7 linked regions of the Homo sapiens genome follow. The protein of the gene in region 1 interacts with the protein of each later gene in a biochemical or structural test. Each region holds a gene or a part of one and is shown in the gene's direction. Other genes may lie near its edges.

What was found.
Region 2: the proteins of MPP1 (region 1) and SLCO1C1 interact in a test that uses a peptide from one of them, tested with the Homo sapiens proteins (one large-scale study listed by IntAct).
Region 3: the proteins of MPP1 (region 1) and DOCK4 interact in a test that uses a peptide from one of them, tested with the Homo sapiens proteins (one large-scale study listed by IntAct).
Region 4: the proteins of MPP1 (region 1) and SLC15A5 interact in a test that uses a peptide from one of them, tested with the Homo sapiens proteins (one large-scale study listed by IntAct).
Region 5: the proteins of MPP1 (region 1) and RASSF6 interact in a test that uses a peptide from one of them, tested with the Homo sapiens proteins (one large-scale study listed by IntAct).
Region 6: the proteins of MPP1 (region 1) and ARHGEF16 interact in a test that uses a peptide from one of them, tested with the Homo sapiens proteins (one large-scale study listed by IntAct).
Region 7: the proteins of MPP1 (region 1) and DGKZ interact in a test that uses a peptide from one of them, tested with the Homo sapiens proteins (one large-scale study listed by IntAct).

Annotation. Positions count from the first base shown.
Region 1 is NC_000023.11:154,777,452-154,781,485, reverse strand, and holds the end of MPP1 (55 kDa erythrocyte membrane protein), read left to right. Parts: intron 1-172; coding exon 173-247; intron 248-2,132; coding exon 2,133-2,309; 3' UTR 2,310-2,802; downstream 2,803-4,034. UniProt on the Homo sapiens protein: Essential regulator of neutrophil polarity. Regulates neutrophil polarization by regulating AKT1 phosphorylation through a mechanism that is independent of PIK3CG activity.
Region 2 is NC_000012.12:20,701,273-20,705,504, forward strand, and holds part of SLCO1C1 (solute carrier organic anion transporter family member 1C1), read left to right. Parts: intron 1-45; coding exon 46-187; intron 188-4,232. UniProt on the Homo sapiens protein: Mediates the Na(+)-independent high affinity transport of organic anions such as the thyroid hormones L-thyroxine (T4), L-thyroxine sulfate (T4S), and 3,3',5'-triiodo-L-thyronine (reverse T3, rT3) at the plasma membrane.
Region 3 is NC_000007.14:111,741,085-111,745,316, reverse strand, and holds part of DOCK4 (dedicator of cytokinesis protein 4), read left to right. Parts: intron 1-3,184; coding exon 3,185-3,304; intron 3,305-3,655; coding exon 3,656-3,777; intron 3,778-4,102; coding exon 4,103-4,223; intron 4,224-4,232. UniProt on the Homo sapiens protein: Functions as a guanine nucleotide exchange factor (GEF) that promotes the exchange of GDP to GTP, converting inactive GDP-bound small GTPases into their active GTP-bound form. Involved in regulation of adherens junction between cells.
Region 4 is NC_000012.12:16,270,652-16,274,883, reverse strand, and holds part of SLC15A5 (solute carrier family 15 member 5), read left to right. Parts: exon of another isoform or gene 1-359; intron 360-1,447; exon of another isoform or gene 1,448-1,542; intron 1,543-2,100; coding exon 2,101-2,323; exon of another isoform or gene 2,324-2,337; intron 2,338-3,401; exon of another isoform or gene 3,402-4,232. UniProt on the Homo sapiens protein: Proton oligopeptide cotransporter.
Region 5 is NC_000004.12:73,617,599-73,622,282, reverse strand, and holds the start of RASSF6 (ras association domain-containing protein 6), read left to right. Parts: upstream 1-1,846; 5' UTR 1,847-1,995; intron 1,996-4,684.
Region 6 is NC_000001.11:3,464,166-3,468,397, forward strand, and holds part of ARHGEF16 (rho guanine nucleotide exchange factor 16), read left to right. Parts: intron 1-1,982; coding exon 1,983-2,028; intron 2,029-2,636; exon of another isoform or gene 2,637-2,749; intron 2,750-3,002; coding exon 3,003-3,172; exon of another isoform or gene 3,173-3,185; intron 3,186-4,232. UniProt on the Homo sapiens protein: Guanyl-nucleotide exchange factor of the RHOG GTPase stimulating the exchange of RHOG-associated GDP for GTP. May play a role in chemotactic cell migration by mediating the activation of RAC1 by EPHA2.
Region 7 is NC_000011.10:46,367,260-46,371,491, forward strand, and holds part of DGKZ (diacylglycerol kinase zeta), read left to right. Parts: intron 1-31; coding exon 32-140; intron 141-392; coding exon 393-488; intron 489-742; coding exon of another isoform or gene 743-745; coding exon 746-820; intron 821-2,234; coding exon 2,235-2,291; intron 2,292-2,681; coding exon 2,682-2,750; intron 2,751-4,053; coding exon 4,054-4,125; intron 4,126-4,227; coding exon 4,228-4,232. UniProt on the Homo sapiens protein: Diacylglycerol kinase that converts diacylglycerol/DAG into phosphatidic acid/phosphatidate/PA and regulates the respective levels of these two bioactive lipids.

The DNA of each region.
Region 1 (4,034 bases):
GTCAGCCTGGAACAAGAACAGTAGTACTGGGAATGATGGAAAGTTGTATTGGGGTAAAGCTCAAAGCTGCTTATTAGAAGGAATCCATTATGACAGCTATGTAGGTTTTTTTTTTTCACTTTCCTTTTCTTCCTTCCCCCCCCTCCCCGCCGCCCTTCTTTTTTTTTTCTAGACCCTGAAAATTGTTCGGACAGCAGAACTTTCGCCTTTCATTGTGTTCATTGCACCTACTGACCAGGGCACTCAGGTGAGGAGAGGTTGTGCGCGATGGGTAGTTCACTTTCTCCGGGCCTGCCCATACTGGGACCTCAGTCCAGGTCATTGGCCAGAGTGCTGGCTGGAGGTCACAGCTCCAGCTGGGCTTCTTCCTCCAGGGCCAAGAAGCCAAAGGGTATGCACATTCGTTCCAGCTCTTAAGCCACTAGCTAGGCCAGTGCCCATGCTACCTAACAGGGACAAAACAAACCAGACCCAGTCATCGTCCTGGAGGCACACAGTTCCAGGGGCAGAGATGGACAGTTGAGCAGATCCTGATACTGGTGGGATGCAGGCTCTGGCAGGGGAAGCTGTGATGGACAGAGGTGGCACTGAACCCGCCCTGGGGTGCAGTATGGCTGTGGGGAAAGACAGAGAGGCCAGGAATATATCAAAAAGCCTACCCTGCTCCTCTGCCCAGCCCTACCCATGCACTTTGCTGCACTGTGCTTTTGCATTGAACAATGGACACCTTTCCCTATCAGGGTGTGAGGAACTCTTTTTCTCTATAGCTGCTTGGTCTTCTGCTGCATGCATGTGTAATACTGCAGTCAATAGCCCTGTGCATATAGCACATGTGTGCAAATATATCTGTAGGAAAAACTCCAAGTAGGATCACTGGGTCCAAGAGCACACACACTTAGAATTTGGACAGGGACCGCCAACCACCTGTGAGACTGCTTGTTTCTCTTTGCCTGCAGCATGTTGTCAAAATTTTCTTTTTTTGCCAGTCTACTGGAGGGAAAAATAGTATCTCATATTTCTTTTTTACTAAAAGAGATGATCAGGTACTTTTTCATATGAAGAGCAATTTGTATTGCCTTTTCTGAGAATTATCTGGTCATACCCTTAGCTCATTTTTCTGCTGAGTTATTGACCTTTGATTTATAGGAAGTCTATATTAGGGTAATTAGCCCTTTGTAATATCAGCTGCAATTTTTTTCCAATTTGGCATGTCTTTTTGCTATGCAGACATTTTTACTTTTATGTAGTTACATGATTTGTCTTTCATGGCTGCTTGGTTTTAGGTCAAAGACAGAGTCCTGAGATATATATACACACACATTTTTAAATTTTGTTTTTTGTAGAAATGGGGTCTCACTGTGTTGCCAGGCTGGTCTTGAACTCCTGTGCTCAAGCAATCATCCTGCCTTGGCCTTCCAAAGTGCTGGGATTACAGGTGTGATCTGGGATTAGAAGTCACCTTTATCTGACTGGGTGCAGTGGCTCACACCTGTAATCCCAGCACTTTGAGAGGCCGAGGCGGGCGGATCACCTGAGGTCTAAAGTTCCAGACCAGCCTGGCCAACATGGCAAAACCCTGTCTCTACTAAAAATACAAAAATTAGCCAGATGTGGTGGCGCATGCCTGTAATCCCAGCTACTCGGGAGGCTGAGACACGAGAATTGCTTGAACCCGGGAGGCGGAGGTTGCAGTGAGCCGAGATTGTGCCACTGCACTCCAGCCTGGGCCACAGAGCAAGACACTGTCTCAAAACAAAACAAAACAACAAAATCACCTTTATCTTCGTTTTAGGATTGCAGCTCTGGTGGTTGTTGAAATGGCTCTTCCATGTTCAAAGGGCATTAAGTGGGAGATGCTGGTGAAGTCCATGCTGTCTCTGCATAGCTATTGGTCCTCCAGAGGACTCTGATTAGTCAGGGTTAGCTTGAGATCCTCTGAGAATTGCCATGGTCTTTTGAGATTGCCTCTTCATGCCCTACATTAACATTCTTTCACAATGTCTTCTGAATTTGACTCGTCAAGTATGATGCACAGCTGAGCAACGCTAACAATTGCTGTTTAAAATCTGTCACTGGCCTCTCTGGGCTGGGGGTGGTGCAGCTTGCTTCATCTGTGGCTTTCTTCTTTGCAGACAGAAGCCCTGCAGCAGCTGCAGAAGGACTCTGAGGCCATCCGCAGCCAGTACGCTCACTACTTTGACCTCTCACTGGTCAATAATGGTGTTGATGAAACCCTTAAGAAATTACAAGAAGCCTTCGACCAAGCGTGCAGTTCTCCACAGTGGGTGCCTGTCTCCTGGGTTTACTAAGCTTGTAGAATGGGGGAACCCACTGTATGCCCCTCTCCAGCATTTGGAATTCCACCCGCCTTGCTTTAAGACAAACAGGGCTGCTCCAACTAGTTTTGTGTCAGCTTCCAGCTCTCTGCAGCTATCCTAATTCAGCCAGTAAGGTTCAGTCTTCTTGCTCAGGCTCCTGAAGGGTTGATTCTCCTGATAGATGGGGCCCCACTGATCTGGATTTGAAAAGGATTTCTAGAAATTGGGGGTAAGAAGTACTACCAAAATGTAACTGCTAATCAAGGGTGATGCACAGCAAAAGCAATGGACCCCATCCCTCTAAAGCCTGCCCTCCTTTGCCTTCAACTGTATATGCTGGGTATTTCATTTGTCTTTTTATTTTGGAGAAAGCGTTTTTAACTGCAACTTTCTATAATGCCAAAATGACACATCTGTGCAATAGAATGATGTCTGCTCTAGGGAAACCTTCAAAAGCAATAAAAATGCTGTGTTGAAATGCCAATGACCTTGTAACTCTGGGTTTCCACACAAAAAGAAATGTGGCCCATTTCACTTAAGCTCCTGGACAACAGCATTAACACAAGATGCCTCTCTTGTGTTCAGATGATAAACACTGGTGCCCTGGAAGAGTCCCCATTCTCTGCCCCCACTGCAGGGCTCTACTGGCTAGTGCCCATGTAGAAAAACACCCTTAAGGTTGTTGTAGCTAGTGGAGCGCTCATTGTGGGCACATATTTAGAACGAGAGAAAATCCAAGCCTGGGGTCCCGTGGTACAGTGGAGGCCGGTCGCTGAGCCAGGGCTGGGGCCCACCCTGCATGCCTGGCTCATGATATGGCTACAGCTCAGGGCCTCGCCTCGCTGCATCCAAGAGCGCTTTTTTTTTTTTTTTTTTTTTTTTTTTTTTGAGACAGTCTGTTTTGCCAGGCTGGAGTGCAGTGGCAGGATCTCGGCTCACTGCAACCTCCACCTCCCAGGTTCCAGGGGATTCTCCTGCCTCAGCCTCCCGAGTAGCTGGGATTACAGGCACACGCCACCACACCTGGCTAATTTTTGTATTTGTAGTAGAGATGGGTTTTGCCATGTTGGCCCAGGCTGGTCTCAGACTCCTGACCTCGGGTGATCTGCCCGCCTCAGCCTCCCAAAGCACTGGGATTATAGGTGTGAGCCATTGCACCCGGCCTCTTTCTTGGTTCTTAATACCAAATCGGAAGCAACCCTAGACCTTTCTTCCACTAATCTGTCACCAAGGCCTTCAGATTCCTGCATGTCCCCACCCTCAGCTTCGTTCTCCCGACTCACCCTGCCCCCCGCTCCTGCCAGGCCCACTATGTATAAATACATTAACCCTCTCCTTCTCTGTTCTTCTAGAGATCAGTGGTTTTGTGGTAATCACTGCCTCTGAGTACTTGATCTCACATCAGATGACAGGGCCCAAGGTGGATTGTGTAAGATACAGAACAAAAATGTAAAAACCAGAAAACAAACATAAAAGCATCACATTTCAAATAGGACATAAAGGTCCCTAGATTTTTAATCAAAATATTTTACAATTTTTGCTCTGCTAGCATGAGATCAACAAGAAAACCCAACAGGAATACATAAAAAACTTAACAAGTTGACTTTAATAAGTAAAAATTACAACATTCTTCTCCCAGCAATGAACAATTTCATTTTTTAAAAGTAAACGAGGCCTAAAACAAGAGGGCACAGGAACAAGTAGTCAGATGGATTT
Region 2 (4,232 bases), on another chromosome or scaffold:
TGTCAAGCTGGAGTCAGACTAAGTGTGACCTGTCATATTTTCCAGGTGTTCTTGTGTGCCTTGTCTTTTGTTTACTTTGCCAAAGCATTGGCAGAAGGCTATCTGAAGAGCACCATCACTCAGATAGAGAGAAGGTTTGATATCCCTTCTTCACTGGTGGGAGTTATTGATGGTAGTTTTGAAATTGGTAGGTATTACAGATGCCTGACTTTAATTTTAAGCCCAAGATCTTCTAGGTGTGGCTAAAGAACACCTTCTGCATTCTATTGTCTGCTGGGATCAGACTCTATTCATAAAATCTTTTTTTTTTTTTTTGGACAGAATTTACCATGATCTTATTCTACAGGAGAGGCAATTTTCTCAGAGCAATCAACAGTAAATTTTTCTCCCCAGGTGTTTGGTATTGTATGGTTCACACAATTCAGAGTTCTACATCAGAGTAAGTGACTTTCTTGGAGGAAAGGGTGAGATGCTAATTGGTATTTTGAGTTATAAATATGTAGAAGTATCTTTACAGAAGAACAATACACCCTGGGAGCACTATGATTCAATTTTAGAGGTGTGGAATAATCCAAATGCGCTCTACAAGAATTTACTGCAATGATGAATAGAAGTTACATCATAAAAGGGATTTTTCCACCCAGTGGTCTAGAAAGAAGAATAAAGGGATTCTATTACCAAGAACACAAGATCAGAGCAGGCAATAAAAATTCAAATCTCAGGTGCCTTTGGTTAGCAATTGACTACAGACTCCTTAGAAATTAAAAAGATCGAGTAATTTGAGTCACTGTTTTAGAAGTAATTTAAAGAGGATAATCCTAGTTAGTCTGCTTCCTGAATTGATAAACTAAAAGGCTTTAATTTTTTGCTGAAGTAAACGAAATAGTACCCTCTCTGGTCCTTAAGGCTTGTTTAGATTCAGATATACACCATAGTAAAACCTCTAACTGCTCCAATTTTAGCTTTACCTGGTGAACTTTCAGAAAAGTGAATAAATATTTTTCAACTCTTTAACAATTTATTTCTTTTCATACATACTATGTGTTTTGGTTCTTACTCTGAATATCACAGAAAAAATAAAATGAATAAGTAACCTTTTGCCTTCAGGCATTTGCTTCCCAAATTCATCTTTTGTCATCCTTCCAGAATGACATTTCTTAGTGCCAAATTTTAATGTCCACACAAATAACTGGGCAATCTTTTAAAAATCTTTTTTTAAAACCTGAATTGGTAGGAACAGGATAAAATTCTGCATTTCTAATAAGCTCCTAAATGATACTGATGCTTCTAGTCAGTAGATCACATTTTGTGTAGCAGGTTTCCAAAACATCTGATCACATCAATCTTTTATGTAATTTGCTTAGATTGGCCCGGATGGTTGATTTATTCCTTGAGCCCTGTTCTACTGATGGCCCTGCACTGAGTGAAGGGCCAAAGAGAATCAAGGTAAAGGGTGATACATTATATCATGAGAGAAAAACAAGGAGAAAGAGGTAACTGGTGCAGATAAAAGAATAGAGCAGATATGAGCAGGCAAAACATTATATATCATGATGTTTTGATGTTTTTCTCACTCTAGATTATTATATAAAAATATTTTAGAGCTGAAGAGGCATAGAAATGATTTGGTCCAAAGTTTTGTTTGGGCTCCCAGGTCCTGATGCAACTTGAGAGACAAAGTTTATATTTGATAGAGAGAGTATACTAAGTTTTCACAGGAAGTAGCAGAAAACCATGACTCCAAATTCACATTAATTCTTCCAGACCATTCTAGGTATATAAATTATTTATTGGATTGGATGCCTTAAAATGGCTTAAAAGTTCTCTTACTTCCATTGAAAACCTTTATCCCAAACATCACAGGTTTGCCCTAATTATTTGAGTTACATAAATTTCCAGACAAATGACTTCGCTGAACATAATCTTAATTTACTTCTTTTGCCTCTTTTTGCATTCCTTCTTTTCAAGATTCTAGAACAAATATCATCCTCCGTCTTTATGTTATTTGTATGTGGCAACTTTGTTGAAATTCTATTAGTTTTAATTGATTTTCCATGGAAACTGTAGAGTTTTGTGGACAAATTGTCTAAAACAAAATATAATTTCGTATCTTTCTTTGCAACTCTTAGATTTTTGTTGTTGTTGTTGATATTACCTTATTACATTAGCCTCAGAACTGTGTTGAAGAGAAGCATTTACAATGGACATCTTTCTCTTGTGTTTGACCTTGATGCAAATACTTTTAAAATTTTAGTATTAAGCAATATGCTTGCTTTGTGGTTTTGATAGATACACTTTAAAAGCTGGTTTGCTCAGATTTGTTTTTTCCTAACATAAATCAATGGTTAATTTTATTTAGTACTTTTACAGTGTCTATTAAGTTAACCATGGAATTATTCCCCTTCCATTTGTTATATAGGGATTTAATTAATAATTTATTGTTAGTTGGTGGTACTCTTGTACTACTATAATGAACTGCGCTTGGTTGGGATATTTTTATTTGTATATACTATTCCGTTTGCTAATAATTTGTTTAGGATTTTTACATCTATCTTCATAATCAAGTTTGGGCTCTAATTGTCTTTTCTTATATTGTCCTTGTCCAGTTTTGGTTTTAAGAAAATAGTAGTCTTACAAGATGAATTGAGTAGCTTTCTTTTTTTTCTGTTATCTCGAGTGTGTCTGTGTGTGTGTGTGTGTGTGTGTGTGTGTGTGCATAGACAGACAGAAAAAGAGAGGAGAGCAAGAATATGTTACTTTAAAGTTTGGTAAGACATATTTCTAAAACTTTCTGTACCTGTTTTTTTGTGAGAGGCTAATGATGGTAGATATGGAATAATTTTTATATCCAATTTCATTTTTTAAAGATTTTGTATCATCATTTATATTTCAAATGTATCTCCTGACAACTCAGAAAGGATACTAAGGAAGCAAAAACTTTGATAGATACAGTATATATATGGTATATAGATATATATATATATCTGTATTACAGGTACTGAACTCATATTGTCTTGTATATGACATGCCCATTAACGTAACACAGAAATAGCTTGTAAACAGAAGTGTTTATTGTGTGGTATTGGTGGAGTGTAGGCGAGAATAGGAGAGAATTACCTATAAAGTGAATGTCAACTTTCATTTTATGTTGGTTCGTTTATTGTGGTACATTAACAAACATATAGATAGAATTATCAAAATAATATGATACACAATGTCTTCTACTAAATACTTAAATTTCAAATGAGACATCTTGTGCTAAATTATTCGTTTTTTAATATGAACATTAAGAAGAGCTTAATTCTTCTTGGAGCCATAAAGACTAGGACCACTGTGCAAGTCATGTTTCTCACTATCATTCTTATTATCCTCAAGCCCACAAAAATTACTGCTTTATTTCCAGTTTACTAAAGCTGGCAATGTGCGTGAACAGTAGTAAATTAGATGATTGCTTACAGATGTAGGGAAACATGCTTTGCTCAAAAATTGGAAATGAGGAGAACTTCAAAGCAAGGCCACCCATTAGCCATCACAATCAATTGCTGGGAAATTGTTAAGATCTTACTGTATTTAGCATGGTACATCTTAAAAACTAAATATCTCAAATAAATATAGCTAAAGCTTTAAAGCCCCTTGAAGTCTAAAACCCTAAACAATGTTTATCAAAGCATGTTCTAGGAATCATCTCCATCAACACACTTGAGTTAGTATTACAAATGCAGATTTCTTGGCCTGACCTCAGATCCATGGAATCAGAAACGTTTGGTACTTGCCAAGAATCGCATTTTTAACAAGTTTTCATTTCCTTAACCGTTTCCTGTCAGTATTTTTACGCACAGCAAAGCGTGAGAAATATTACTTGAAACATGTTTAATCACTTATCACCATCATCAACTAAAAGTAACGTGTCACATGCTTCATTAGAGACATTTTAGAAAACCATAATTTCTACTTTCAAAAAAACCCAATATTTTTAAACCATTTTTCACAAAAGAGATAAATGGGCACATTTTATAGAGATTTTGTATTTCATAAAATTTGCTTTATAGGCATATGTTGAGGTTATATAATTGATGTACACCTGAAGTCGCCTATGTGGAATAATTTTTATTTCTATTTTGAGTCTTAATCTTTTTGTACAAAGTTTATTAACAAATCATAAAGTATCATTTGTGTACATGTGTTTCATCATTTTATTTCATTTAAAGTACAGTTGTGTTTAATTTTTCTAT
Region 3 (4,232 bases), on another chromosome or scaffold:
AGCATTGTAATAAGGAAGTGGGCAATCAGTAGATCTTGCTTTAAAGCAGTGTCATATTTTGCAAAGTAAACCTATAGGTTACATGATATGGACAAAACTACATACAACTCATCATTTTCTACCCCCAGAGAAGCGTGGTTTATTTATTTGGAACCATCAAGTACAAAGAACTGGAATGAGTAATCTGTTGCCTACTGTGTCCCTATTGATAGCCTGAAATGGTTTGAAAACCTCTGAGGTAGGAGACATGGTTGGAAGCCTGTGTTAAACAGGAAATAAAGACATTTGCTTCCTGTGAAAAGTGGAATATGTGTGATGAAACATGACAAAGGCATTTCTTTCTACCCAATAATGCCAAATTAATAAGTAAAGCATGCTCTTTGGATTAGAAAATGAGGTCGTGTCTGGTTTTCATCCATCTTTTATGCTCTGTAGGCTTAGTCCACAAAACCTAATACTACAGGGAGAGAGGTGGCCACAGAAGAGAGAGAAGAATTACTTGAAGCTGATCTGTAAGGAAATAAAGAATAAGTCAAGTTCTCAATGTGACTCTGGGTGTTTGTAGATACTAGAAGTGAGCAGTTGAGGTCATCCATTACTTAGGATTATGCAATGACTTTAACCTTCATTGATTTTTAAAGATCTGTGTTTTACCTCTTATGAATGGTTCACTCCACCCCAGGACTGTATCTGCTGGATTCAGCCTGACTGAATTATTTCCCCAGAATTAAATGGTAGCTCAGGGTCAAGAAGACTGCCAAGAAAAATAAAACCAGGGAACCTTTATTTCTTCTACGTCCTGCTTATGTTCCTGAAACCTTGTGGAAAGAGCCATGGCCTAGAAAATGTGAGATCTCTGTTATAAGACAAGCAGTGCACGTGACTGTCAATGTGCCCTTGGCCAAGTCTCATCATCTCTGTGGGGAGGTGGACTGGAGAGGGCACCATCCTTCTCTGGACCTCTGCAAAGTAGTTCAGATAAACTCTCTAGAGGACAGAGACATGCACCACCCCAGTGCTCCTTCCAGGACAGACTTACTCTGCCTCAGCTGCAGGAAATGTGGCTCTCAACAGACATCTCCAGCTGTCAGGCCCTTCAGGGATTGCCTCCACTGCAGAGAGCCACTTGGCCCAAGGTTGCTACCTTCTCAGTGGTGCACATCCCATACTGAGGAAGCAATAGAAAGCCTGGCCATTTGGGACCAACACAGGACAACTTTGACAGACCATTAAAGGTCCAGAGGTTGAGGTAGGAGTATCATCTGACACCAGGAGTTCAAGACTAGCCTGGGCAACATAGCAAGACCCCATCTCTACAAAAACCTAAAAACTAGCTGGGTGTGGTGGTGCATGCCTGTAGGCCCAGCTACTTGGGAGGCTGAGGTGGGAGGATCACCTTAGCCCAGGAGTTCGAGGTTGCAGTGAGCTATGATCACACCACTGCATTCCTTCCTGGGCAGCAGAGTGAGACTCTGTCTCTAAAAAGATTAAAATACAGATAAATTTTTAAGAACATTCCAGAGGTCCCTTGGGTTTGGCAGTAGCTGACAGGACTGCTGTGCAGCTCAACTTCTTTTCTTGTCAAGTCCGGCTTCTGTCCCTCCCCCTGACAGGCATCAATCCCAAGGTACACCCTGATAAACATTATGAAATCCATGCTGGAGTCTACTTCCCAGAGAACCCAACTTGCAACATTCTGTGAACAAAAGGGAAGTCACCCAACGCTAGTGTTTAAAATGGAGAAGACTGGGGGCCTCTGCGTTTAGATCCACCTCCTACATCCCTTCCATGTCCTCATCACAGATGTAGCCTCTCCCTTTATGCCTCATACACACTGCACTCCAAGTGTGCCTTTCAAAGGCATCCTTGATATTTGTTATGCAAATATGCTGGCAGTGGGCAGCATCCAGAGCCCCGTCCCTTAGGGAAGGTGCTGGATGCCCCAACCCGCCAGGGTCAGTCCTGTTTGACCTGAGCTTTCAACCTAAAATCTTCACGAGCTGCAAAGATTAAAAATAGCAACAATAACAACAAAACCTTGTGGTGATATAGGATTCGTTTTCCTCCCAGTCTATGGAATTTGTCCTTTTGACCATGTTAGCATGGGGGGCATTTTTAAAATACAAAAGACAGCTGCTGCTCGAATCAAAGGAATCACACACTGTTGATGGTTGCACAAAGGAAGGTTGAATGTTTACCTTCATCTCTTCGGATCCTCACTGCAGGAAAGTTTTTTAAGTAGGACCTGCTCTCTCGTTGAATTATAAGTGAATATGAATAATGTTTTTTGGGATTTTTTTCTTTTTTCTTTTTTTTTTCTTTTTGGAGACAGAGTCTAGCTCTGTCACCTAGGCTGAAATGCAGTGGCATGATCTTGGCTCACTACAACCTCCACCTCCCGGATTCAAGCAATCCTCCTGCCTCAGCCACTCGAGTAGTTGGAACTACAGGCACGTGCCACCACACCTGGCTAATTTTTGTATTTTTAGTAGAGACAGCGTTTCACTGTGTTGTCCAGGCTGGTCTTGAACTCCTGACCTTGTGATCAACCCGCCTTGGCCTCCCAAAGTGCTGGGATTACAGGCGTGAGCCACCGCGCCTGGCCAGGAATAATCTTTTTAAACAAAAACAAGAAGCATGGAAACTGTCATAGAATTCCTTTTTGTTTTGTTTTTTCCATCCTCCCTGGCAGATTCTGAAAGTCTGTGGGAGGGATGGATGAGCACAGAGGAACCTAGTGGGAGAGGGAAATGTGGGGGGAGAGGGTGCCATGCAAAGAAGAGATCTTTAAGGGAGAATTGCCGGCCCTCTTAACAGTGAGCAGCACATGCCCCTATTCCTTCTCCACCCTGGGGAGAGAAGGAAGGGGCCAAAAGGACACATAACTGTTACGAGGCATTATAATTATAGATCTAAAATACATGGGAAAGAAGCCTGGGGGAGTAGGAAAATTAAGTCTGAAATCAGAACCAAGTTCTAATCCCCATTTGTCTTTTATCCATGCAGGATTTTTCAGATCCTCAGTTTTTCTTCACCTGTAAAGTGACAGCTGTTCCTACCTTGTCAGAGGCAGAGGATTAGCAATAATGCAAGCGAAATGCGTAGTAAAGTGCTCGGCCCATAGCAGGCACTTAGTGAGAGGTAGTCATTGATGTGAGGTTTTTTCCTTATGTTGTGAATTAAGGCACAGATTCTGGAATTTGGTTTGGCCGTGCATGAGAAGTTTGTACCTCAAGATATGAGACCCCTTCACAAAAAGCTGGTTGACCAATTCTTTGTGATGAAGTCGAGCTTAGGGATACAGGTATGTATACTTAGGTGTCCATGGCGGGGCAGCCTGATCACTGCCGTTTGCTTGTTAAAGGGATGATGATGTATCCAATAGTGACATCTTGTGGTTTTTCTACCAAACTGCACTGTTTTACCAGGGAGCCCTCAAATACAATTGCCTTGTCTGCTATTTGCGAGGCTTTCCTTTTGGGAAAACACAAATGTAAGTGAGGGAAAGCCAAATAATACTGGAACTTGCTTTAATAGCTCCCTATGTGAAGACTTGATGGCAATTAGGATGTGTGCCTAGTATGCTAACCTGTCTCATAAGTTATTTTGCCCAAATCATTACTGTAATGAGATATTTCCTTTACTACATCTTTAGGAGTTCTCTGCTTGTATGCAAGCCAGTCCTGTCCATTTTCCTAATGGAAGCCCTCGTGTGTGTAGAAACTCAGCACCTGCTTCTGTGAGCCCAGATGGTACCAGGGTAATTCCTAGACGCAGGTAAGTCATATTCCAAATTATCTTACAATTTGGCCTCACCCGCAAGCTGATCTGGAATGGTTCTCTCATTCTTTATGGCACAATTTGTCAAATACGCTATTTCTTAATGAAATAACTAACCCGCGAGGCAGCTGCAGACCTCTGCCACCAGTAAAACAGCAACAGCATGAGAAATAAATAAACTCAAACATTTGATTATATTGAGGCAAACAGGAGAAAACAAAACGGAATGTATTTTCCCCCCTTTGGTTTCATAGCATTCTAGCACATGATAAAGTACAATTTGGAGACTGAGTTAATGACCTTTTTTTTCCCCCTGAAACAGCCCGTTAAGTTACCCAGCTGTCAACCGATATTCTTCCTCCTCACTGTCCTCACAAGCTTCTGCTGAAGTAAGCAATATTACAGGGCAATCAGAAAGCTCTGATGAAGTCTTTAACATGCAGGTACTTAAT
Region 4 (4,232 bases), on another chromosome or scaffold:
GGGATAAAGTTTTGATTTAACACAATCAGCCTATTATGACATTTTCTCAAAAGATGGAAGTAAAGTGCCTAAGTTACACAAATATATCATTCAAACTAAAAGTGCCTTGTTCCTAATAGTTCCTGCATGAAATAGTTGTCCTGTCCCTCCTCTTTGGACATCCCTTTGTCTAGCCAGGCCTCACGTCACACCTACAGAAGAGAAGACTAAGTGGTAGAAAGAGAGCAGTTAGTTTCATATCTGGCTAACCTTAAAAGGGAACATTTCAAACTCAATAATTTAAAGGGCTCACCTCATGGTAAATGAATCTGTTGCCAAATAGCTATTAAGGGCATATAGTCTTTACATTGTGAAAGCCTCTGTAGGGGAGATGGAAGCATTAGACCAAATTTTTATCTGTAAGGAATTTATAATCTAATTGAGAAAACAAATCACATGAAATAACTGTATAAAAATTTATACCAAATAACATTAATGCCAAATTAATAAAATGAAGAGCAAAACGAACATGGAGGAGCCATTTTTCACTAATCGAATCATCAAAACAAAAAAATTAATGATGCTAACTAGTATGAATGAAGATCTTCTCATACAATGATGGTAGGAGATTAACTTGTTGCATTGTTAAAGAACATTTGCCAGTGGTATTAAGAAGCAATAAAAATAGGAATGCCTTTGACTGAGAACTTAGGCTAATAAAGATGTGCACAAAACTTATGTGTCAGGGTATTTTACAGTATTCATTTAAAAATAACTGAAAAGGTATTTTAAAACACATTATGATTAGAATATCACATCATCACTAGAAATCATGTTGGAAAAGTATAAAGGTATTTTAAAAATTGTTCATATTATTTGGTTACATTAAAAACTCAACAGTGTAACCTCAATTTATTTAAGTAAAATACATTTATAAAATATATTTATATATAAGTAAAATATTTTTAAGTAAAATATAAATATTTTTAAAATATTTTATTTTATAAAAGTAAAATTATATATGTAAAGATGATCTCTGAGTAATGAGATTATGGGCCTTTTGTATTATTCTGAGTGCTTTCCTCTATTTTTCAAATTTTCTGAAGTAAGAATGTATTACTTTTGTAATCTGATGGGGGGGAATGCTATTTCCAAAAAAAAAAAAAAATTTATTTGACTACTTGATGGTAGGAGGTCCAAGAAGAGGGAGATTACAACTGGGTTACTTTATAACATTGGGCAAGCCACTTAATCTCACTGAACTTATTTCTTTAAAAAAAAATTGAATAAGAAAATCTATCCACTCACATCACAAAGTTTTTCCAAGATGAAACAATATAGTCCATGAGCATGCTTGGCAAAATATAAAGAGCTTAGCAAAAGCATGGAATTGTATAGTTATTTTTATTAGACAAGGAAAGTCATCAAGTGTGGTCCCTGCAAGGTGGAAGAGAGAAGGATACTCGACCTTCTTTTGTCACTTTAGGTCCCCTCTCCTTCCACTCACACTCCTCTGTCCCCAGCTTTCTCAACTCTGTTTGTGGCAAAGAAGGCTCCATCCAGCTGTGTGAGAAATAAGAGAAATAAGAAAGACATTACAAGGAGAAACAGAAGTAGGAAAGAAAAAAAAAAAGGCTGTGTTCTCCTCTAACTCTGATAATGTTCTTCTTAAAAGCTTTTAGGTAATAAGCTTCTGAGATGTGTGAGATCATGGTGTTTTCTGTCACTCGATTGATTAAGAACAAATAACCTTTATTAACAGTGGTTTTCTCTGGGGGTGGGAATACTAACAGCTTCATTTTTTATACAATGCTTTCCTGAGTTATTTTAATTTTGGCAAAATAAACATGATTTGCTCATACATTCTGAGAGAAAACATAGTTCAAGCTTGAGGAGAAAAAAAAAAACCTAAAACTCCGGATTAGTTGAGACACATATTGAAGGAAATTTTTACAATTGGAAAACATCAGGCTATCCCTGAAATTGCAATGACTACCATAAATGTTTGGATAAGACAATCACAAAATGATGCCACTGTCAGAGAAAAACCCTGTTTAAAATGTGATTTGGTGATCCACTTGTTCTATGCTACATTTACTCTTTTTTTTTCTCCACCTACAGGCACTGCTTTGTTATCTGTGGTGGCTTTTCCCTTGGAAGATTTCTATCTGGGCACTTACCATGCAGTTAACAACATACCAAAAACAGAGCAGCACAGGCTGTTTTATGTAGCACTGCTGACCATTTGCCTTGGCATTGGAGGCGTAAGAGCCATCGTCTGTCCACTGGGTGCTTTTGGCCTTCAGGAGTATGGATCACAAAAAACGATGTCTTTTTTTAACTGGTAAGTAGCACTGGCTAGGAGAGAAAAGAGGCTTATGACCATTCTCACTGTTTACTTTCTGATTCCATTTGGGTAGTAGTTGCTCAGTCTTTGTGATGAATTGGGCTAAGTGATGATGTGATGAATCTGTGATGATGATTCAGTCAGTAATCACAGGAGCTTCTAAGTCTCATGCAGACCAGTACAACTCACCAGCACCTTCCCAACACACGCGGACACATTTATCCTCCAGGTAAAAAGATTTGAAGTGCCTTGTCCTGCAGAATAGAATGTGGCTTTGGAACCAAAGAGACCTGGGTGGAAGTCTGGACTCTGCTTAACACAGGCTGACTGACCTTGACCTAGTCATTTATTCTCTACCTCAGTTTATTCATTTCTGAAGGGGGATAATACCTCCTCTTCTCCGGTTTTATTAGAGGTAACACCATGTGTATTGCTGGCAAAGAACTTGGCACATAGTAAGTGATCAAAAAATGGTAGCTGTTAGTATGTCTGTATTGTAATAGACTAATTTGGCAGAGATTATAAATTTCTAGGCCAATGCAGAGAGAAGATGCAAAGATGAAAGAAGTATTTTGCAATTTGTTAAAGCATCACCCAGCATCTCTGTTTCTCACCCAGTTCGCTCCCAACACCTAAAAGAGTTTATATTCCATGAAAATCAAACAGCCTTCCTGTGAATCTTTGTCTCTCCCAACGAGTTCTTATGGAGTTCGTCGGTTTTTGTGTTTTTTAAGGAAACAATTTATATTACCAAATACAAATTCAAGAAAACAAATTAATATATGGATCTTAAGGGAGGGTAGTTAAGAATTTAGTATAAAACTTCTTTGTTATTCTTTGTTATCTATCAGTGGATGTCAAACAGATGTGAGCTACATTGTCCATTTTTAGAGTAAATAGTGTCTATATGTGTATGTATAGGCATATGTAGCTATCCGAGGCAGTTCCTCTTTTCTCTTTCTTTCTTTTTCTTTCTCTTGCTCCCCTTTTTTCTTTCTCCAATTATATTAATATTACAAAGCACTCAGCCCTATTTTGGATTAAGTCCTAATGTCAGAGAACAATGCAGTCTTACCAAAGGTAGAAGGGACTCTTTACTTCCTTGCAGCAAATTCTGCCTCCTTGACCTGCCCAAAGGAGAAAGAAAAATCCTTCTTTTTTATTCTATTCGGAGGTTTTAATCCTTAATTAGCAACATCATTTTGATTAAATAAGACTCTGGAGGATTAAGACTGGAGAGCAATCAGTTGTTCTGAAAGATAGCTCTGGAGAATTTATTGTACTGTGGTCTTAGTCATTCAGAGTTGTGTTTAATCAAAGTGACATTTCTCAGTGTTGATTACAAAGGAGACATTATATGAATGAAATATTTCCTTTGGGAAACAGAGGGGACTCCCACTGGGTGTGTGCTTTAGGGCTTCAGGAAGGGGGATGGGGAATGGGGTGAAAATGAATTTCTGCAGCTGTAAGGAACCAGGCCAAATTTAGGATGAACATATTTAGATTTTTAAAAATTATTTTCTGATTTCACTAAACAGCTCACTATTTTAAAAATTTAAAGCATCTAGAAATGTGTATAAAGAATCAGGCTGTTATTTTTTAATGTGATAAAAGAACTGGATGGTAAGATCCTTGAAGGCTGAATCTGGTTGTCTTGCCTTTTTTTATTTTTCCAGTTTAAATACTAAACTACAGGCCAACTTTTATGAATGTTCACTTACCTTACTGCAGTTTATAGCAATGAATGCTGATTCCATTCCTGTACACAGTGCGGGGGCTGGTGACAAGATGGACAGAGACTCCACTGGGCAACCAGACAGCTGGCAGAATCCTGGCTCTGTCACTTAGGAGTTTTATGGTCTTTGGCAAGTTCCTTAATTCCTCAGAGCCCCAGGTTCCTCATCCA
Region 5 (4,684 bases), on another chromosome or scaffold:
AGTCCTTTTGAAATTGGAGATATTGGCAAAAAACAAAGCCCCCAAATCCAATGCTTGCAGGTAAAAGATGCAAAAGAATGTTGCCCTGATGCTGACAATAAGCAAATGACCCACTTCAAGCACAGACAATGGAGGTGGAGCATGGATTTGAGCAAGATATCCTGGAACCGAGAGCTGTAACTACTCTAGGTCCTGCTAGTCATCATTCAAAGGTCAGTCCATACCAGCAGCCACATACCAGAGAGTTATGGAGCCAACATGATGATCGAATTAATATCTGCAAGTAATACTAAGTCACATCTGTCCTTACATAAGATTGTAAAATCTTTGATTGTGATCCAATAAAACCATTTGCTCAAATAATGATAAATCTGATAGTTCCTGGTCTCCGCACACCACAGATTAAATAGATAAACTGCCTAATATTTTTTCTTTTTTTTTTTTGAATCAGGCTGGAGTGCAGTGGTGCAATCTTGGCTCTCTGCAGCCTCGACTTCCCAGGCTCAAGTGATCCTCCCACCTCAGCCTCCCGAGTAGCTGGGACTATAGGCATGCCCCACAATGCCGGGCTAATTTTTTTTTTTTTTTTTGCAGAGACAGGGTTTTGCCATGTTGTCCAGGCTGGTCTTGAACTCCTGGGCTCAAGTGATCCACCAGCCTTGGTCTCCCAAAGTGCTGAGATTACAGGCGTGAGTCACTGCACCTGGCCTGCCTCACCTTTTGAACATATAGGATCTTACTTAAAGTGCTATGACAAACATGCAACCTGAACATCTAGAGTCATTCTGTTTGTCTGGCGTTTGAACACGAAAGATACTAGAAATTAACTCTGCCTGCTGAACTTTTTGCAGGAATCAGATTGAATTTCTTTTGAGGGCTCTCAGGTTTACACTTGTAAAATAACCTATTATGTTTAAAAATTATGAATAGTTGCTTTACATAGGAAACCAGTAAAATAACAATGATCCTTAAAAATCTGTGTGTGTGTGTGTGTGTGTGTGTGTGTAAATGTACTTCATATTTCCACAGCATCTGTCATTTAACAGTTTCTAAGCCTTTTTGGTGTCCTTTTGAAATTGGAGATATTGGATAAAACAAAGCCCCCAAATCCAATTCAGTAGATAATGACTAAATTATTATTTATCTCCTCTGTTTTGTTTCATTATGTTCATTTTCAAACTTTGATGTCTACCAGTTTCTTCTGTGGAGCTTATAAAAAATATAAATACCCGAAGTGTATGCATGGCCTACTAAATCAGAGTCTCACAGTTGATGGTACCTGGGTTTAGCAGAATACATAGGTGGTCCTGGTGCACCCTGAAGCGCGAAACGCTGCTCTGGGTGAAAAAAAGTGCTAGCAGGGAAATGTGTTAGCAAAATAACAAGGAAAAGAAAGTTAACAAATCTCAAATTGGAAAAGAAAAATCTTAAAAAGAAAGACGTGAATAATGGCGTTCAGTCTTGGTTGGTGTCATTTCTCACAGGCCAATTACCTACAGTCTGGGTGGACTAGAGAATAGAGATTAACATCAGTCAAATCCCGTGGTTAAAGCGTTAACTAGAATGTCCATTCATTTCTCAAGAAGTGTGGCAGAGAGCAAAGGAGTGTACCTATCAGCTGTTCCTAAGAAAGTAAACACTCCCAACATGCACTGAGGCACAGGGAGTGGCTCAGGTTTCTTGACACTTCCCTGCTGTGGCGAAAAGGAGAAATAATTAACAGCTCCTGGGGCTCCAGGATCGCTGATCGCGTCGGGGGCACTGCAAGCGCCCAGCTGAGCCATGCTCTGGGAGGAGACAGGCGCCGCCCCTGCGCCCGCGCGGGCCTCGGACCTCCCCTACAGGTGAGTGACTCGCGGAGTCCCAGCCCGGCAGAGACAGGGCACTGGTTTCCCTCTACCAGAGTTCCTGACCCAGCCGAGAACAAACCGCGAAGCAAGTTCAGCCGAACAACGATGGTGAAAAGGGTCCTCCTGCTCACAGTGTGAATAACAGGTAAAAAATGGGGATGGGGAAAAAAACTTTCTAATCCACTCCCTGGGGTCATGTTGAGGGCAAGTTATTAGAAAGCAGAATCCATAGGCAACAAAGTTAAGTGTGTGTGTGTCATAGCAGCCTGAATCGCACACATGCCTTTTCCTTTTGATTTTCTCAGAATATGCTTTCCTAACCAAGGTAAGCTTGTAGGGTGGGAGGGAGAGAGGGGAAAGAAGGGAGGGAAAGGGTGCAGAGAAGGGCTTGGAGGTAAATGTGACCATAGGACCCCTCCTCCCTTTAGTTCAATGAGCCCTTCACCTGTAATTGTGCCTGGCAAAAATCGTGCCTTACAAAGATACTAGACTTCTGGATGGCATACTCCTTCCTCTGAGTATCCTTATGGTTAGAATATTGTGTTGAATCATCGCACTGGAAAGAACTTAATTGAGGGTTCAGCTCAACTTTTATTTGTTTCTGCAAAGTGACAGAAAGCATGCCCCCCACCAAAAAAAAAATGAATTTTCAATATAAGCGCTCACCAAACAATGAAATAATAAACATAAATAATTAAATGGGAGTGCATGAGTTAAGGATATGAATTCTGAAGCAGAAGAGTGGTAGGTTCAAAGCTCGGCTTTGCCACTTATTAGTTTGCCCCCTCTCAAGTTTCTTAACCTAAGCCCCAAACGTTTGTCTGTAAAACAAGCATCATCAAAGGATCTGCCACATAAGGCTTTCTTTGATGGGAACTGAACAGTCAGCAAGTGTTCTGTAAGTGATACCTACTGTTAGCATTAAGAATAAGCTGCTCTGCCAAAGGGGCCGTTATCAGGGAGGGCAAGCTGAACTAGGGAGACCAGACAGTGTGTATTAGGATGCTGGAATTGAACTGGTTCCCGGAGACTGGATCCAGGACAGGCAAGCAGGTGACAGGTGTGCTAGGATCATCTCTCTGGGTAGCAACGAAATGACCTGGCTTCTTTCCATTTTTCAGATAGAGTATGTGGTGGCAAATTCAGACATATTTGCTACTCAATCAGTTTTCTTTTGAAAAATTCACATTTACATTAATCTGTTATTCCTAAAAAGAAAATAGAATTTTAGAGTAAGAGAGTTACACACAATCTCATATTGTGGAATTCATGCCATTTGGGTTTTATAAAGGAGACTGCTTTTGAATAACTTTCATCAATTTAGACCATATAATCCATGTCTTTATATTTCAGCACATATTGAATTGTTTGTATTGAAGTGCTGTTTTTAATTTGTGTTGATGGACAAGAGACATGAAGGAATAATACTTGTATTTTGTCAGTCTCTACCTCTTAAGCTTAAATTACAGGAAAGTGGCTTTATTTTATGAAGTTTCACTTAAAGGGCACTTTTGTCAATGTTGTTAGTTATTAATGTTGCTAATTTTCTTGAGGGGACCAACTTAGTGTCTATGACTAGTAATTTCCATTGACTTCATTTTTATCTTGTTATTTTATTAAATAAAGCAGTCAAAGAGTTTGCAGTATACTCTAACTTAATATCATTGGTGTTTTAATGGATTCTTTTTTCAAATTGCAGAGTTGAAATTCTTCAGTGTGCTTACAATTAGATATTGACTGGAGAATTGTGGATAGAATTCTAAACCCAACCTAACTGAAGTTTACTATGTTATTTCCCTCTGGGGTCTGATTGTGTTTAGTACAGTTTAGCTAAAAACTTATAAAGGAATCAAATTGAATTAGAATAAGTTAGGGTTCCAATATTCATTAAAGATTTTTCAAAGAGGAAATATGCTTTTATGCTGAATTTCCATATTGTTATACATCCTTAAACAAAGTTATTTGCCTTTATATTTATTGATAGACATATGTCTAAATAAAGAATAGTAGCCCCAATTGAGATAAATTTATTTAACCATATTTGAAATTGATTTGAGATTAATCTACTTAACCGTAACTGGGTGGAAGTCTTTCTAGTTAAAATCTGTTTAGATAGATAGATAGATAGATAACAACTTTATATCTATACATTAGAATATTGTGTTGAATTTACATTTATTCTACTATTTCTCACGTGTATAACATTTTATTATAAACTATTAAATGTTGTGGTCAATCAGAGAGAGAGAGAAAGAGAGAAAAGAGTGACACAGAGAGACCCAGCAATGATTACGAAAAAATTAACTTTTCCAGTTATATTCAAAATAGTGTAACATGTATGTAACAAGTCTTTTAAGCATGTAATTAAAAGTTCTATACCTGATTCTTGTTTTAATTTCCTAAAATAAGAAGGATCCTTTACTTTTAACTGAGATAGAAACCCAATGCTGACAGTCCATTTGCTTATATAGATTCATTGATTGCAATGTAGGTGGGGAATTCACGGTTACTAGAGTTACATGGGCTTCATATAAAAGCTTAGATTTTTAAAATATTCAAGTATAGGCCATTTGAAAACAAAACCTCTGAGAAAGGAATTCTGAATATTTTCCTTTCACATTACAGTTAGAGAGTTATTCTGTTGCAAAAATTAATTTGTATGTTTAAAATGATAAATTATAGTGATTTCATCACTTTCATAACATAATCTCAACAACCAAACTTAACTAATACCACTGCTTTCAGGAGTAGAACATGAAGTGTCTCCTATTTAAGTAATAAGGATGTTAACTTAAAGGAAAACTTCATCATCACCTAGAGCCTAGTAAAGGAGC
Region 6 (4,232 bases), on another chromosome or scaffold:
TGCTTCCCTGCCTGCTGGTGGTGGCTCTAGGTCTGGGGCATGGTGGCGGCAGACCCTTTGCTGGGCAGGGTGTAGCCTGACTGCATGTGTCACTAGGGCCCAGGGGACAGAGCGTCCAGCTGGGGCTCCTGGGCCCAGTGTCCCTCATCCTCGGAGTCACCATCCCCTGCGGCTGGGGGCCAGGCCTTCATTTCAGGCAGCCCTGGAGCTGGAAGCCACGTTCAGGGAGAGTTGCGTGGTACCTGGACACCCACCCAGCCAGGACTGCGACTCTGGCCACCCTGCTTGGTCTCTTTAGCTGGTGGGTCTGGGCTCAGGCAGGGCTGGGGTAGGGGAGGCGAGCTGCCCTGGAACCGCCCATCAGGAGGCCCTGGCAGCCCGAGCACCCTCAAGAATGCAGAGCAGATGCAGGGCTGGCCCCAGGGGCGTCCTTCTTGTTGGGCGCCTTGCTCAGACGTGTTGGAAAACAGGCCCCAAGCATATGGGCTGCCTCAGTGAAGGACGAGGGCGGGGGCAGGTGCTGTGTGACCCAGATGAGTTCCTGAACCTTCCTGAGCCTTGGCTTCCCCATGTGGAAGCAAAGATCACAGCCGCCCTCTGGGCATCCTCTGGGCAGTGTCCACGGAAGGTGTGTGCCAGAGCGTCTTCTTCACTGGTTGCCGTCCCAGCTGCCTCCTCAGGCCCAGCTCCTGCCCAGACTGGGAGTGGCAGTGCCAGCCTCAGGAGACGCCAAGACCACCTGTCAGAATGTCCCATGGGCGTCCACTGCAGGCCGATGGTGGCTGAGGTGGGGTCCCCCATGTCCCCAGCACCAGCCACTGTCCTCGGTCACAGCTCTCTCTTGTGCCTACCTGAGACGCCCAGGACTCAGAAATGCCTCAGCACCTCTGCCGCAGGCCCCTGCACCCCAGCAGCTGGAAGGGCCCCAGCACTCTCTACACCCACCAGGCCCAGGCCCATGGGGCTCCGTTCATTCATTCACTGTTTATTTCATGCAGTCAGCAGACACTTCTGGGCACCTGCCACATGCTTGGTGCTGGGGTTCCAAAGTGAGCCCACGGGCATGGGCCTGGTTCTCAGAGGGCCTCCAGCGCAGGGAGAATGCCGAGGGCTGGGCTGAGGGCAGCTCGGGGGTGCTGGGAGCACAGAGGAGGGGGCTCCCCATGGCCTCGGGTCAGGGTAGGGTCCCGGAGGAAGGAGGGTTAGCGCAGAGGCAGACAGGAGGAGAGGACGGAGTCGGGGTGGGGGAGGCAACAGCTCCAGCCAGACCTGGAGGCCGAAGGGGGGCTGGGGGAGTCCTTGAGGTGGGGTGCGGGGCACGGGGCTGAGGGTGCCAGGCCAGGTACAGCTGGGAGCACCACACACTCCCAACCAGTAAGGGGAGTTTACAGGCCCCAACTCGTTCCGAGAAATCAGCCCCTTTCCTTCCGGGAACCAGCATACCTGTGGCGTCAGGAAAGTGTGGTGTCCCAGCCGAGGAGGGTGGGCTCCGAGTCGGGCACCTGAGCGTGGGGGCTTCCCAGGAGCCCAGCCCTCCCGTCACTTCTGCCATCCCGGCCTCCTGCTGGGGCCCCCAGACCCATGCTTGGGGCTGGACACTGGCCAATCCTTGCTCGTCTGTCCCACCAGGTCCTAGTCCCCAGGGGCCTGTGTCCTGCCCCACTGTCCCTTCACAGCCCTCTCCCAACCTCACCTGCCCTGCCACGGGCCTGCTCGAAACTCTTCTGAGCGTCCCCTCACGATGAGTTCAACCCTTCCTCCTCCTCCAAGCAGCCCTCAGTCACGTGTCCTGCCTGCTCTGAGCCCTCCTCCCACCTCTCTTGGCCTCTGCTTGGCGGCCGTGAGGCCCTGTGGAGCTGACATCTATTGGGCACAGCTTCGCATGTGGAGCCGAGAGGTCTCTGGGGTCCCAGGGCAGAATCGCCGTGGGCAACACCTGCCCCGGCTGACAGCTGCGGTTTCTGTGTCTCTCTTTTGTGCAGAAGACGCTGGGGAGGAAACGTGGGCACAAGGGTTCCTTCAAGGACGGTGAGTGTGGCTTCGGGAGGCACCGCGGGCTGGGCTCCAGTTGAAACTGGTCTCACTGGGGCACCCTGGGGTTCGGGTGGGCCTCAGTTTGGTGTCTCGGGGTCACCAAAGCTGCTTGACAGGGTCCTTCCAGAGGCTGAGGTCCCAGTGGCTGGTCTGTTCATGTAGCCCTGATGAGTCTAGAAAGGTCTAGAAAGTTCCCTTGGACTCTATTCTGTGTGTTCTGAAGGGCAGGGTACAGACAGAGCCCCCAGTCTTGCCCTGAACACCCCATGTGTGTGCTGGGCCCAGCCTACAGTGGCCGTGTTGGGGGACCAAGGCCAGATCAGAGGGCACCGGCCCCACACCGCGGGCTCTGCCCGGACTCTTCGAGGCTGAAGGGGAGCCATGTGTTGGGGCCTCCAGCATGGGTGGCGGTGGTGCACACTCAGCCTGCTCGGGGGAGATGAGAACATCCCACAGGGAGGTTGACATAGGGAGGTGCCTGCTACCTGGGTCCAAATGCCCGGGGGTGTAAAGAGATTAGAGGCAATGAAGCCCGGGGAGGGCTAAGGCCTCGAGTGCCCAGCTCCAGGCCTGAGGCTCCAAGACACAATGGCCCCTTCCAGCCCCCAGAAGCTTTGTGGACAGGCATGGGCCCAGGAGGGGGTACCCAGGTCTCCTCTACGGAAATCCCTGGGAAGTGTCCCCAGGAGGCAGCAGCGATGCCCCACGTCTCAGGGTAAGGCTGGTTGGGGGCTGCTGTGAGGGTTTGGAGGCACCCTGAGCCGGGACCAGCCCATTTCAGGTGGGACTTGTGGCATAGGAGAGGTCTTGGGACTGGTGCCCAGCCTGGGGCAGTCCCCTCCCAAAGCCTCCCTCTCCCACACAGCCGTGAGAGCCTGTGGGCCTAGAGGACTCAGCTGGCGGGTTGCAGGGAGGCGCAGCCTTTTGCAATCCCCCAGGGCCACAGGTTACCCTCCTTCTCTCTCTAGACCCCCAGCTCTACCAGGAGATCCAGGAGCGGGGCCTGAACACCAGCCAGGAGTCTGATGACGACATCCTCGATGAGTCCTCCAGCCCCGAGGGAACCCAGAAGGTGGACGCCACCATTGTGGTCAAGAGCTACCGGCCCGCCCAGGTCACCTGGAGCCAGCTCCCAGAGGTAGCGCCGGAGGGTGGGTGAGGCTGCCCCACAGAGGCAGGGAGAAGCCACAGTCCCCCTGCTGTTCCTTCCCCAAGCCCAGGCGGCTGGTCCCCAGCAGCAGCCCAGTCCTCCCAGGGAGGGTGGGCAGCCTTCCCAGAAGCCCCTCGGCTGTGGGTGGCAGACCTGGGGGTCTCCCTCCTGTGCCCTCAGAGTCACCCTGCCCATGCAGGGCCCTGCCGTCGTGCGTGCGAGGGCCAGCCCTGCTCAGACTACCCTTCAGGGAGCTGCGGGCGCCAGGAGTCCCTTCCCAGGGCCCCCGCCCCAGGAGAGGGCTGAATGATCTGCGTAGGGAGACAGCTGGGATGGGAGGGGCCGGGACTTGGAGCTGGGGCCAGGGCCAAGACACTCCTTCACTTTCCATATCTGAAATTGGGGGCCCGTCCCTGCCCTGCAGGGGTCTCAGTGGAGAGCGTGGCCCGGCATTGGTCCCCATGCTTGGGGGAGATGGCTGCTCCTACCCCAGGTGGACCGGCATGTGACCCGCACCCTGAGGCCCAAGGGAGGGGACCATGTGGCCGTGGGCGTGGCGGGCAGCGGGGAGGGCGGGCCCCCACCTGTGGTACAATGGGGCTCCTTGTTCGCCATTCAGAGGGGCTGGCACTGCAACCACCCACCACACACCATGGTGCTGCGTACCCTGGGACCCCGGCCAGGGCAGGCCCAGCGTGGGGTGAGGGCAGGCAGCGGGCAGCCTCCCCACAGATAGAAAGGCCTAGAAGTGCAGTCTTACTCTCCTGCTGGGAGCTGGGGGCGTGTGGTCTCCCTCTGTCGGGGATGGAGTCCAGTACCGCACCCTGGTAACTGCCAGAGTTTCCGACCCTGCATGGGAAGGAGGCACTGGTTTGGGGAATGGGGGACTCACCCTTGGCCCAGGCGCTGTTGGCGGCCTTTCTGCCCAGCCCAGTGAGGAGCAGAGCACGAATCAGGGTGGCCTGAGTCCTGCAGAGGGGACCCCTGGGCGGTGTGGCAGCCCTCCTGGTCCTGACGTGCTCTACCAATCGAGCCACACTCCCGCCAA
Region 7 (4,232 bases), on another chromosome or scaffold:
GCCCCCTCCTCAGCTGTCTTCTCCTCTCTAGGAAAGCCATCACCAAGTCGGGCCTCCAGCACCTGGCCCCCCCTCCGCCCACCCCTGGGGCCCCGTGCAGCGAGTCAGAGCGGCAGATCCGGAGTACAGTGGACTGGAGCGTGAGTGCCTGAACACCCCTGGGTCCCAGACCCTCTGGGCTCTTGGCCAAGGCGCAGCTGGCGGGTGGAGGCACTAAAGGCAGCTGGGAGAGCCAAGCCTGGAAGGGTTGGGACAGTGGGGCAGACGGAACAGAGCAGGGTCGATCGGGGCGCTGGAGTGGGTTTGTCTTGGGAGAGGGCGGGTGGGCGGGGGCTGATGGGAGGGAGGGCTGGGCGGCCAGCGTGTGCTGAGCAAGCCCATCCCGTGGCTAGGAGTCAGCGACATATGGGGAGCACATCTGGTTCGAGACCAACGTGTCCGGGGACTTCTGCTACGTTGGGGAGCAGTACTGTGTAGCCAGGATGCTGGTGAGTGCTCGTAGGGGCACGCCGCCCCCTGCTGGTGGAGCCAGTAGCCGCAGCCCTTCCGGGAACGTGGGATTGAGCCCGCTCCCTGGCACCCCTGCTGTGGGCCGCCCCAGGATGGTGAGGGGTGCAGGGGCTTTGTCCGGATGCCAGGACTGGGGCTTCCCAGTGCACACAAAGGGCAGCTGTGCTGGGGCAGGCAGCCTCCGAGATAGACTTACCTGGTGCCTCAGGGGCCCTCTCTTCCTGTCCTGCAGCAGAAGTCAGTGTCTCGAAGAAAGTGCGCAGCCTGCAAGATTGTGGTGCACACGCCCTGCATCGAGCAGCTGGAGAAGGTGGGTGGGTAGCTCAGCTTTGCCCGCCCCTGCCCTTTGGGTGCTGAGGCCCTTTCAGCGCGCACTCACACCCACATGTTATACAAACGGCCTGCCAGGAGTGACCCAGCACTCGGGGGTGAAGAGTCAAGGACCCTGGAGCCAAATGCCTGCGTTCGAATCCTGGCTCCTCACTGATTAGCTGCTGTATCCCCACTGCCTGGAACAAACCTGGCGCCTAGTGGGTTCGTTGAATATCACTCAATGGAATGAATTGACGAATGGTGGCCCTTGTACCATTTCACCATGTCCAAACTAGTGCTTAGAAGAGGCCATTGATTTGCTGAAGCTTCATAACTCAGCTGTGGCTACACCCTGCCTCTGTGGAGACCTTTCCCCAAGGGCCATTGTCCACTGTGCATTTGCAGCTGGGGGCATGTCTGGGCACTGTGCTTCTAGAGGTGGAGGCAGCACTGGGCAGACGGGTCAAGGCCAGGGGCAGAAGGGTTCGCATGGAGGGGCAGCGCTTCCCAGCCTGCAGAAACCCAGGCCATCATACGGGAGAGACTGTAAGACTAGGAGTGGTTCAGGCAGGCTCACACAGGCTGCTTTCCCCAGCCTCTGAATTGTAAAGTGAGGCTTCCTTATACCTCTAATAAGGCTGAAGTAGGGACAGTTATGAGAAGGGAAATAGAAATGCAGCCCCAAGCACTGTACACTCATCATTTAAGGTGGAAATCGACCTAGGGTTCCACAAATTAGCTAAAGGTCTCCAGGGGCCAGGCAGTGCAAGTCTGCGTGTGAGGACCAGGCTGGCTGCGTGTGCCCGGGTCGGGAGTGCCAGAGGGCGAGGAAGAAAGGATGCGGCCGAGTGCGGTGGCTCATGCCTGTAATCCCAGCACTTTGGGAGGCCGAGGTAGGTGGATCACCCTGAGGTCAGGAGTTTGAGACCAGCCTGGCCAACATGGTGAAACCCCATCTCTACTAAAAATCACAAAAATTAGCCAGGCGTGGTGATGCACACCTGTAATCCCAGCTACTCGGGAGGTGGAGGTTGCAGTGAGCCGAGATCGCACCACTGCACTCCAGCCTGGGCAACAGAGCGAGACTCTGTCTCAAAAAACAAAAACAAAAAAAAAACAACGAGCAAACCATGGTCCCATGTTAGTGGGGGAGACGGACCCAAAGCTCCCAACCTCCCCCTCATCCTGGGTCCTGGGTGGAAGAAGGAAAGATCCCTCTGGCTAGTGAGGAGGAGGCAGAGAGGCAGGAGGGCTTCTCACAGGAGGTGTCTCGTGTTTCAAGGACTCTCGTGACGATTTGGGGGTATCCCCACCTTGTGAGGATGACTCTGGGTTGTCCTGGAGGGAGTGACCACATACCTGACCCCGAAGGGAGGTTCTGACATTTTGGTGGTCACTGCCATGTTTCACAGATAAATTTCCGCTGTAAGCCGTCCTTCCGTGAATCAGGCTCCAGGAATGTCCGCGAGGTAAGTGCCCAGGGTGGTCAGGGATGGGGCCACCCTAAGATTCCTGCATGGGCCTCTGCGCAGTGCCTCTGGAGTGCCACCAGGGGGCTCGGCTCCCTCTAGGCTGCTGCTCACTGAGGTCTGTCTGAGGTCTGCCATGCGGAGGCCTAACTAGCGCTGCCTGCGGAGTGGGTGGGACAGCTTGTGCCTCCTGGTGCTTCCCAGCCTTCTCTGTCCCTCTGAGTCTGAGCCTCCCCCAGGCCATGAAGAGAGTCTTTAGCCCCTCCTCCACTCATGCGCAGGACTGCAGAGCGCTTCCTGCAGCCCCGTGTGTTGAGCCGTGTGGGCAGTCCTCAGGACTGTGCCCCTGCCCACCCCTCACCCAGTGAAATTTTTCCCCTTCTCCCCCAGCCAACCTTTGTACGGCACCACTGGGTACACAGACGACGCCAGGACGGCAAGTGTCGGCACTGTGGGAAGGTGAGAGGCCCTGCCCGAGGACATCGCCACCTGCACCTGCGGTCCTGAGCCCAGGCCATGTGGCCGGTGTGGCCTGCCGATCACTGACCACACCCTGGTGTGCAGAGTCCGGGGCTGACCCTCAGCCTGGCTGCAGTGCCTTCAGTTCTCAAGCACCCTGGCCTGCTCTTGGTCTCTGGGCTTAGTAGGAGAGCAGGGAGGAAAGTTTTCTTCCCATGTGGCACACCTGGCCTGCTTTGAAGCTGCAAGTGGCCCTTTGGAGAATCGTATAGACTTACTCATTCGGTGACTCCATGGATACTTGTGTGCCGAGCGCCAAGCTGGGCAGCGGTTTCCCACCCTCCTGAGGACAGTGTGGCTTGAAGCCAGGCTTTCCAGGCGACCGCCTAACCCAGTCCACAGTTGTTTGGTTCACTTTCTTGTTTGCTTCTTGCCCGCCTCCCTCAGTAAGTGCAGGCTCTCAAAGATGGAGAGGCTTGCTTCACTGATTCTCAGCGCCTGGCCCACTGCAGGCCTTTCATAACAGCCTGTGTGATGAACAGGGAATGAATGTGATAGGTACTCGGAAGCGGCAGTAAATTTCTTTAACAGCACATGGGGGTCTGGTCAGGCCTCGGGGGTAGGAAGGAGGGAAAATCCGAGTGAGGCAGGAGTTAGCCTGCAGTGTGGCAGAACGGGTATGCATGTGGTGCCGTGCAGGTAACTTCAGGGAGTCAGGGGGCCCGGGCTAAGCCACCCTGCTCTTCAGGCTTATCTTATACATATTTTTTTTTATTTTAAAAAATGTGTTCAGACTGGGTGTGGTGGCTCACGCCTGTAATCCCAGCACTTTGGGAGGCTGAGGTGGGTGGATCACCTGAGGTCAGGAATTCGAGACCAGCCTGGCTAACATGGTGAAACCCTGTCTCTACTGAAAATACAAAAAATTAGCTGGGCGTAGTGGTGGGCGCCTGTAATCCCGGCCACTCAGGAGGCTGAGACAAGAGAATCGCTTGAACCTGGAAGGTGGAGGTTGCAGTGAGCCAAGATCACGCCACTGCACTCCAGCCTGGGCAACAAGAGCGAGACTCCATCTCCAAACAAAAACAAAAAATGTGTTCAAAGCTGGGCATGGTGGCACATGCCTGTTGTTCCCAGTTACTTGGGGGGGCTGAGGCAGATTGCTTAAGCCCAGGAGTTTGAGACCAGCCTGGGCAACATAGCGAGGCCCTGTCTCTGGGTGGAGAGAGGCTGGCACCAGGAGAGGGGCTGGGTCTGCTGCTCCACGCCTGCCCTGGTTCCCATCCATCCTGTCTACCCTCAGGGATTCCAGCAGAAGTTCACCTTCCACAGCAAGGAGATTGTGGCCATCAGCTGCTCGTGGTGCAAGCAGGCAGTGAGTGGTGCCCCCGCCCCCAGGGCCAGGCCCTGCACTGCTGGGTTTGGGTCCCCGAGTCTGAACACGGTCCCGCTGAGCCCGGCCCCTCGCTCTCCTCAGTACCA